Regions from separate parts of the Homo sapiens genome. Here all the other regions are reported to be linked to region 2. The links are microRNA targets in miRTarBase. Many come from high-throughput screens and were not tested one by one. Region 2 holds a microRNA gene; each other region holds the end of a gene's coding sequence.
What was found. The annotated mature microRNA hsa-miR-6847-3p reads GGCUCAUGUGUCUGUCCUCUUC and lies in region 2 at 960-981, shown strand. An mRNA with a match to its seed (bases 2 to 7 or 8) in the 3' UTR can be bound and repressed. Matches are read on the target gene's strand: a 7mer-m8 pairs with bases 2 to 8, a 7mer-A1 pairs with bases 2 to 7 and ends in A, and an 8mer does both.

Region 1 (3,000 bases), not on the chromosome of region 2:
AGGCTGGCTGACCCTGGTTCCCTCACACCTAGGTACAAATACTCAATTCTTAGACACAAAAGCCTTAGCAAGTGTGGCCACCAACACACACACACCTTCACCAGGGCTATGTCAGAAGATGACCTAGTGCTGGTTCCTATGGCTCACAGAGCCAGGGTTTGGAGAGAGGCTGCTGCTTCTATGCTGGCCACTTGGAGCCTAGAATCCAAGCCTGAAGTATGTGTGTGTGTGGGGGGGGGGGGTCACAGGACCAGGGGTGAGGCTTCCTGCCTTTGATTGTGCGAGCTGCCTTGGGGCCCCTGCCAACAATACAACAGCCAGTGTTCCTTGAAAAACTCCACCTCCCAGAACCTGAAGGAAATATAGCTATGGTCTTTTGACCATTTCTATGATGAAAGTTGTATCTTCTGAGATACTTGTTTTATGTTGGAAAGTCAGTAAAGTGACCACTAAGAGTCAAACTCTTAGCTAGAAATGTTAATAGAAAGTCCGATCAAAGTGTATATTCAATGAGGAACAAGTGATATTAAAGCAAAGTTAAACTTCATGTAACTATTTTTATTTCAGTGGATTCCAAAGCATGAGTTGGGCTGCTTTTGAATAGTGGGAGACGGGAGTTTACCCCGATCACAGAAACCATACCAACTGAAAGACAAATCAGCATCTTGCTGGACGACCCCTCACAGAGCTCCTAGATCCTTGAAGTGTGAACTTCAGCAGCTGAGAGGTAACAATTGTACACAAATCACACTATCATGCTCCAACGAATGATGTGGCCCTTATGAAACAAGATGTTAGAATGAATTCTTTATAGTCTCAGCGCAAAAAAGATTCAAGTACTGTTTAAGGTTTTTGTTTGGTACTACTTTCTTCTCTTCAAACAGCATTTCCTGAGGTTAACTTTCTTGGAAGAAGTGGAATTAATGGAGTTCTCACATTCAGCCCTTCAATTTATCATCGCTGAATTCTTGAGTTATGCTCAAATGAGTAATACAATTTGTGTTTAGAAAACACAAAGTGGAAAATTTAGAGACATTTAGATTATGTTTCTATGTTCATTTCAAATGCCTTGGGAGCATTTACTTCTTAAACATTTAGTGAGGAATAAACCAAATATAATCAGGGCCCTCCTTTATTTCCCCAGCAATCTGGGATAGATCATACTCACAATGTATTTCCCAAGTATCCCTTGTTACTAAAAGGCAGTCTGTTCCCCGTAAGTACTCTCTGAGAACAGCCATCCCAGGTATCCTTGAAAAGCAAATGAGAGCTGAGCATGGCAAACACACGAGGTCCAGCTGTGTACAAATCATCAGTAGATGGCACACACATGCATGTATGTGCCTAACATGAAACCAGATATCCTTTCTCAGATGACAGATGTCAAGGCTGCAGTTTTCTTCTCTTGCCTCTTACTTTGCTGAATATAAACTAAGATGAGATTTCTATTTAATACTTACAATCACCTTGCTTTTCTTTTAAGATACTTCTAGAAGGGGGTAGGGATTGATTATAGGAGGACTTTCAGTTAGGGAAGTAGAAGACTAAGTGCTTTGAAAAGCTTTATGAATAAGACTACGAGAAAAGCTGTAGGTCTGCAAACACCCAATAGAAAACTGTTTAAAAAAGAAACAGGCCAGGCGCAGTGGCTCATGCCTGTAGTCCCAGCACTTTGAGAGGCTGAGGCGGGCAGATCACTTGAGGCCAGGAGATCAAGACCAGCCTGGCCAACATGGCAAAACCCCGTCTCTACTAAAAATACAATAATTAGCTGGGCATGGTGGCGCATGTCCATAATCCCAGCTACTTGGGAGGCTGAGGTACAAGAATTGCTTGAACCCGGGAGATGGAGGTTGCAGTGAGCCGAGATGGCACCACTGCACTCCAGCCTGGGCGATAGAGTGAGACCCCGCCCCCCCCCCCCCCCCAAAAAAAAAAAGAGAAACAGATGGCACAAACTCTGGAATAAAAAAAAAGTGCTTGTAAGACTGCAACATGACTGCGGTTGAAAAATAAACACATAGGTCTTCTTTGAAAGTATTGCCCTACAGACACATTCATGTTAAACTGCTTCAGTATCATCGAACCATCACTCTGCTATTTCTCTGCACACCCACCTGCACAGTTATAAAGAGGAGGAAAGCACAGTGATACTCCTTGATGTCTGAAACCAAGTTTTTAAGGATGTGGAAAGAACAAACTAAAAACGTAAAACAAAACACCCAATCCTCAGAACTACCACCTCTAACTTTCATGTTTCTGGGAGGAAGTGAATTAATAAATGTTTTGTGGGTAGAAAGCAAAAAAATCATCACATAATTCAGCAAAATAATGAAGGCCCAACTGTATGACCCCTTCACTTTATAAGCACGTTTTAAGGCCAACTTTAGAGAAAATGGTAATATAAATTAATTTTAGCAAGTATAAATTACAGTGACCATCTAGATATTCAAACACCAAAACAGAACAAAATTTACATAAGTAAAAACTCTTCTAAAGTAAACCAATGTACAATATCAGAACTCAAAATTCATTAGAAGGTTCACTGTATGTTTTAATCAGGCTCAGACTGAAATAAAAGTAGTCAATTGAAACCCCAACCTGGAAAGCCATCCCTGCTATGGCTGTGATTTCATCATTTCGGCATCCCGAAACATTCACTTAGAGCAACATCCATGTAAACAGTTCGACATATGGTCCCCTGCTGTGGATCTGTGGCTAGTAACAGCCTGGGAGCAGCAGACAGACAGGGGACACTTAAACCTCAGAAAGCAATAGCAGCCTCTGACGCCTTGCTCAAGGCTTCTCATCTGGTGGCTCAGTGAGACTTTGGGAGGTGGAAGTGGTGAAAGTGGAAAGCCATGAAGACATAGCTGTCTTTGCACTGGAAAAAGCTCCTCCAACTGACTGGCCTGGATGGAGAGGAGAAAAACAAAAGGAAAAATGTCTTAACTTTTGTTACGAGACAGTGAAAGACCAACATAATTAATACATTTTTAA
Region 2 (3,334 bases):
TGAGCGCTGGCTCGGGGACTTGAGGGGCAACGGCCGGCGCGCCTCAGTCTACACAGCCGATGCTCAGCACCGCATCTCACTCGGAGTAAACGCAAGTCCTTAGTGTGCTGCGCGGTGGTCCTGCCTTTCTCATCGGCCTCTGTCCCTGCGCCCTCCTTCCTCTTTGCGGCTCTTCAACGTGCTAGGCACTCCCCCACTCGCTCCCTCTCCTTTCAGCTCTACTCCGACGTCACTCCTTCCCAGACGACCTTATTATCCACGCGGTACTTCTCGCCCTACAATAAACCCTTTGTTTTGTGCACCTACAATCTCAAATGCCTATTTTGCTTAAGCATTTTCCCCTTTGTTTCCTCGCTGGAACATAAGCTTCCTAAAGAAAGGAACTTTACATAAAACTATCTGGTTTCATTACTGTGCTTCCAGCGCTGTAACTGCCTGGCCAGCGAAGGTATTGAAAGAGTGTTTGCTTAGCGCATGAGTGTGGGAGCTCTGCTTTCCAGGCGGAGGGAACCAGAAGGGCGAAGACCACGGTGGTGAAAACAAGCAAGGCACTTATGCAGAGCAGAAAGACTGCTGGTGGGGAAAGAGGGGATAACTCCAAATCAGGTTGAGGGTTCCCGGGGAGGTGAGGACTTAGGGTTTTGTAGAGTAGGGAAATGATTTGGGATCTTATTTCATATGTAATGTGAAACCTTTGTAAGGTAGTTAGGATTTGAGTGTGTAGGTGAGACAGAAGCAGCGTTGATGTTTGTAAACTTGGGTTGGCAGGGAATGGGGCAAGGATGGACACAAGGAAGCCAATTAAAAGGTGCCAGAGGGCGACACATGCAAGACAGAGAGCGCAAAACAGGGGGCTTTGTTTTGGAGGTAACGCAGTTGCCCCTTGCTGAGGCATTGAAAGTGGAGGGAGAGGCAGACCCACAGAGGACAGTGGAGTGTGAGCTGGAAGGAGTGGGCCTGGCTCATGTGTCTGTCCTCTTCCAGATCCGGGGCTCCCGGGCTCGAGCCCTGCCGGACAGGGCCCTAGTGAACTGTCAATATAGTTCAGCGACCTTCAGCACAGGTGAGCGCAAGCGACGGCCACATGGGGACCGTAAGTCCTGTGAGATGGGCCTGCAGCTCCGCCAGACTTTCGAAGCAGCCATCCTCACACAGCTGCACCCACGCTCCCAGATTGATATCTATGTGCAGGTGAGCCAGCTGCAGCCGTCAATCCAGGGAGGGAAGGGTGTGATGGGGTTGGGGAGGGAGTCTGATAGACTGACACCCTGGGTTCCCTGCAGGTGCTACAGGCAGATGGTGGGACCTATGCAGCTTGTGTGAATGCAGCCACGCTGGCAGTGCTGGATGCCGGGATACCCATGAGAGACTTTGTGTGTGCGTGCTCAGCTGGCTTCGTGGACGGCACAGCCCTGGCGGACCTCAGCCATGTGGAGGAAGCAGCTGGTGGCCCCCAGCTGGCCCTGGCCCTGCTGCCAGCCTCAGGACAGATTGCGCTGCTTGAGATGGATGCCCGGCTGCACGAGGACCACCTGGAGCGGGTGTTGGAGGCTGCTGCCCAGGCTGCCCGAGATGTGCACACCCTCTTAGATCGAGTGGTCCGGCAGCATGTGCGTGAGGCCTCTATCTTGCTGGGGGACTGACCACCCAGCCACCCATGTCCAGAATAAAACCCTCCTCTGCCCACACACCCCTCACTGTACGTTATCACCTAACAGCACTTCAGAGCCATGTGAAGGCTGGCAGAGCCTGGTCTGGTGCTGGCTCCTGGGGATGATTAGGGACCCTCGCCCACACATGAACGGCCTATCTCTGTGTAGCCTGATTCAAACCCTGAAGAGAACAGTGGATTAGGGGGTTTCTGTAGGGGAGGCCCTGGGTGGAAAAAGCAGCATGTCCCAGTAAGGACTCAAGGCAGCTGAGCAGGAGGCAGGGCCTGGCAAGATGAGCCAGGCCATTAGACTGAGGAATCTGTTACCCTTATTCCAGCACATCGGGGGCCCTGAGCAAAGGGCTGAGGAAGAACTCAGCTGGCTCTGGGTACCCACCCTAGGGATGTGGGGGCCATGTCCCACAACCTCTGGACTATGGTTTGGAGCCCCCTGGGCTTTTCCTGCTGCTTACCTTGGGCTCTGAAAGTACAACAGCCAGGCATGGTGGCTCACGCCTGTAATCCCAGAGCTTTGGGAGGCTGAGGCAGGCGGATTGCTTCAGGTCAGGAGTTTGAGACCAGCCTGGCCAACATGGCGAAACCCCGTCTCTACTAAAAATACAAAATTAGCTGGGAGTGGTGGCACATGCCTGTAATCCAAGCTACTCAGGAGGCTGAGACAGGAGAATCTCTTGAACCTGGGAGGCGGAGGTTGCAGTGAGCCGAGATTGTGCCACTGCACTCCAGCCTGGGCGACAGAGCAAGACTCCATCTAAAAAAAAATAAAAGTACAAAAATTACCTGTTCTCATGGATCACTTGAGGTCAGGAGTTCGAGACCAGCCTGGCCAATGTGGTAAAACCCCATCTCTATTAAAGACACAAAAATTAGTGTGGTGGCAGGCACCTGTAATCCCAGCTACTAGGGAGGCTGGGGCAGGAGAATCACTTGAACCAGGAGTTGAAGGTTGCAGTGAGCCAAGATTACACCACTGCACTCCAGCCTGGGTGACAGAGCAAGACTCTGTCTCAAAAAAAAAACAAAAAAAAACTTGTTCTCACATGGAGTCTTCAGCTTTGACCCTTCTCTCTGCCCACCACTATTTTGTTTGTTGAGACATGGTCTTGCTCTGTGCTCAGGCTGGAGTGCAGTGGTGTGATCACGGCTCACTGCAGTCTGGATCTCCCAGGCTCAAGTGATCCTCCCACTTTAGCCTCCTGAGCTGAGACTACAGGCATGCCCCACTCACCTGGCTAATTTAAAAGGAATTTTTTTGTGTGTACAGACTGGGTCTCATTTCGTTGTCCAGGCTGATCTCAAAGGATCCACCCACCTCACCTTCCCAAAGTGCACCCTCTTGAGCAAACTCCCCCTTCATTCACCTCTGGCCCACCGAGCCCCGACTACCAGTCCCTGCAGTCTGGACCCTGGGACTGCTTCTCCCCTAATATTCCACGGATCTCCTGGCCCGGACAGTGACAGTATGATCCCCCACTTTATAATGCACACACCCCAGCTCCAGTGAAGCCCGTTTTGGCCAGTAGTGCCATCAGCATCTTCTCTGCAGTCATCTGACTCTGAAAACCTCGGTGCTGGGCTCACGCTGTGACTCCACTGGGACGTCCTGAGTCATTGGCAGTCTCGCTTGGCATCCATTCTCTGACCGCCGCCGGCTTTCCACCC
Region 3 (3,000 bases), not on the chromosome of region 2:
TTCCCTTTGATGCATTAACACTTTGAGTTTCAAGACTTAAAAATCAGGAGCAAAAAAGTTACATTTGGTGCTTCAACATTTTCTTATTTTACTTTCTAATTGTGTCAACATTTCCAGAAACTATTAGAAGGGTTATAGAAATGTAAGTATGCATTTATATACTTTATAAAATTGATTGAAGGCCGGTTGCGGTGGCTCACACCTGTAATCCCAGCACTTTGGGAGGCCGAGGTGGGCAGATCACGAGGTCAGGACGAGACCATCCTGGCTAACACAGTGAAACCCTGTCTCTACTAAAAATACAAAAAATTAGCTGGGCGTGGTGGCGGGCGCCTGTAGTCCCAGCTACTTGGGAGGCTGAGGGAGGCTGAGGCAGGAGAATGGCGTGAACCCGGGAGGCGGAGCTTGCAGTGAGCCGAGATAGCGCCACTGCACTCCGGCCTGGGCGACACGGCAAGATTCTGTCTCAAAAAAAAAAAAAAAAAATTGATTGAAAATCTACAGTGAAAACATTTTTGGAAAGCAAATTCAACAGCGAACACTTGACCATACCATTTGAGAAATGTTCTTTGTGTATTGACTGTTTTAGAAGAAAACAGCTTGATTATGGGCCAAAATGTTTATAATTTGACTACTGATTCAGACCAGTTAGCTCTTTAGATGACAGTTCTGTATGGATCAATTGGCTTCACTCTGTTTTATGGTTATAGTCTGCAACTACAGAATGGCCGATTAATCTTGGGAAGGGTAAGACAGGGTCAAAAGAAAGTCAGAAATCTATAAACCTTGCTATAGATTAAGCTTAGAATGCAAGTTCTGTTGACAAAAGTTTCTAGCATCAGCTGAGTATAATTTGGCTTCCGTCATTAGGAATGAGATAAATCCTAACTGTCCAACAGAAATATGGACTTGTTTCTAAAGGAGTTAAATATGTTTGACCTGAAAGTTTAAACCTATTACATTAAATGATTAAAGGGACCTTTTTTGGCAGTCTGATCAATGGGTTGCAAATGCTCTGCAGATGGGAGGTGACGATAGGAAGGAATTATGCAACATCATCCTTCCTCTAGTTTAGCAGGAAATATTTCTGGTAGGAAGACATACATGAAAATAGGTCTGCTGTGTAATGTCATTTTAGAACCAAACTTTGTTGGGTTAAGATGCTTTTACAGAAAACATCCTTTTAAAAACTTGGTACTGTATGTTTTAGTTAAGATAACACTTTTTGTGTCCTTGTTTGCTGAAAACGTTCAAGTACATAAAGAATTGTATTATTAAATTACCCACTGACAACAATTTCTTTAAAGTTTATATATTTGTGGGAAGGTCACAATTTACATACTTCCAAAAAACAAAATACCTTGGTTTATACATTGTCAAAACAGTCTGTAAAAATCAAAACAAATTGAAACAAAGGCAGAGATACTAGGCGAAAGAGGCAGAGACTTCCTATATACACTACAACTTCCTATTCAAATTTCAAAGTGCTTGTTTCAAGAGAACACATTTCTCACCTACTACCTTTAAACTAACATGCTTCTGGAAATGTGGTTTTCCTCCAAGGACAGGGATTCAATTTAGCTCAGCTCTGGCTCATTAGTGTGAATAAACAGAAGGGCTTTGCTTCAGGGAGGTAGACAGGAATCACAACAAGGCTTGACTTTAATGAGACCACATTACCACAGAGGTTCTCTTTTCCAGATGACTTCCAACATTGTCAGTGACAGTCAACTGTTGGGAGCAGATCTTGGGACAAACCTTTTAGGGAAAATGAACTAAATCAGCATGAGCCACTGTCAAGTTTAAGGTGACAGCTGAAGGCTGGGTGTGGTGGCTCATGCCTGTAACCCCAGCACTTTGGGAGGCTGAAGCAGGAGCATCGCTTGAGCCCAGGAGTTTGAAACTAGCTTGGGCAACATAGCAAGACCTCATCTCTACGAAAAAATTAAAGACTTAGCCAGGTGTGCACATCTGTAGTACCAGTTACTGGGCAGGCTGAGGCGGGAGGAAGGCTTGAGCCCAGTAGTTCGGGGCTGCAGTGAGCCATGATTGTGCCACTGCACTCCAGCCTAGCAACAGAGTGAGACCTTGTCTCTAATAATAATAAAAGGGGCAGCTGGAGTCCACCAAGAAGTATTGTCCATCAGGGATCTTTTCAGCAGGCACTAAACTGCTGGGGAAAGAGTTTCATCTTGAGCCTTTACAACAACAAACAACTTTTTTCTGTGAATCTGACTGATTGCCTAGGTAGAAATGTCCTTTTCGGTGGCCTCAGTGATACATTGATACTGTTTATGGTCATTTACAGTAAAGAAAATATGTCCTGCAAAGAGACAGACCACCAGAATATTTAGTTCTATGGCAAATACCTTATTTGAGGAGCTCATGAGCTTCATGACCAGTCACTTCTGGAGAGTGCAGGAGTTCAGAGTGTCCCAGCCCCTTTTGCTCTTCAGTGTTTCAAAATACATGTGTGGAGAAGCTGTTTTCTTGCAAAGAAGTTATGATCTCTGGATTGTCATGCCATCATTGGCACACAACTCCCCTCTGGAAGAGGAGCTGTTTGCCAGAAATATTTTCTCAGTGTGATTTATGGCATTCCACCTGGCTCTCTCCATCAGTCTCTACTAGCAGAGCCACTCCCAAATGACCCAGAGCCATCCTTTCCACTCCAATGGAGAGGCTTCCAGAACATGCTGCAGTTGGGTCCTTGGCATTGACTTGCAACTGAAGCTCCTCAGGAGTTGGTAGGAGGAAGTAGAGGGACTGGTGCCTGTAGCTCCTGGCTTTCCTCTCTGACCAACGCATAGCGCCTGGCTTTTCTAGGGTCGGGCTCTGGCGTCTCCTCTGCCCATCTCCCCACACGGCGCACACCTTTGGCCACCTTGGGTGCGTTCCTGCAAGGATTGTGGTCATAGATGACCAGCTTCAGACTTGACAGGTGCGCCAGGCTGGGGAAGTAACGGATGCTGTTCCAGTCCACATCAATCACCTCCAGGA

Region 1: the mRNA of AVL9 is a reported target of hsa-miR-6847-3p. Seed matches in the 3' UTR shown: 7mer-m8 at 1,649-1,655.
Region 3: miRTarBase lists LRRC10 as a target of hsa-miR-6847-3p. Seed matches in the 3' UTR shown: 7mer-m8 at 2,382-2,388 and 7mer-m8 at 1,834-1,840.

What each region holds. Positions count from the first base shown.
Region 1 is chr7:32,583,704-32,586,703 of GRCh38, reverse strand. It overlaps AVL9 (AVL9 cell migration associated), which reads right to left. Exons shown (of 16, transcript NM_015060.3): 16 at 1-2,912. The coding sequence ends at 2,797. It also overlaps the pseudogene DPY19L1P1. Among named protein-coding and RNA genes, the nearest start is that of AVL9, 90 kb to the right of the region's middle.
Region 2 is chr8:144,078,959-144,082,292 of GRCh38, forward strand. It overlaps MIR6847 (microRNA 6847), which reads left to right and starts at 916; the gene lies at 916-984. It overlaps EXOSC4 (exosome component 4), which reads left to right. Exons shown (of 3, transcript NM_019037.3): 2 at 985-1,191; 3 at 1,284-1,690. The coding sequence ends at 1,643. LOC124902038 (a long non-coding RNA gene) reads right to left here. Exons shown (of 2, transcript XR_007061141.1): 1 at 3,163-3,334; 2 at 1-2,423.
Region 3 is chr12:69,607,268-69,610,267 of GRCh38, forward strand. It overlaps LRRC10 (leucine rich repeat containing 10), which reads right to left. Exons shown (of 1, transcript NM_201550.4): 1 at 1,297-3,000. The coding sequence ends at 2,738. Among named protein-coding and RNA genes, the nearest start is that of LRRC10, 2.1 kb to the right of the region's middle.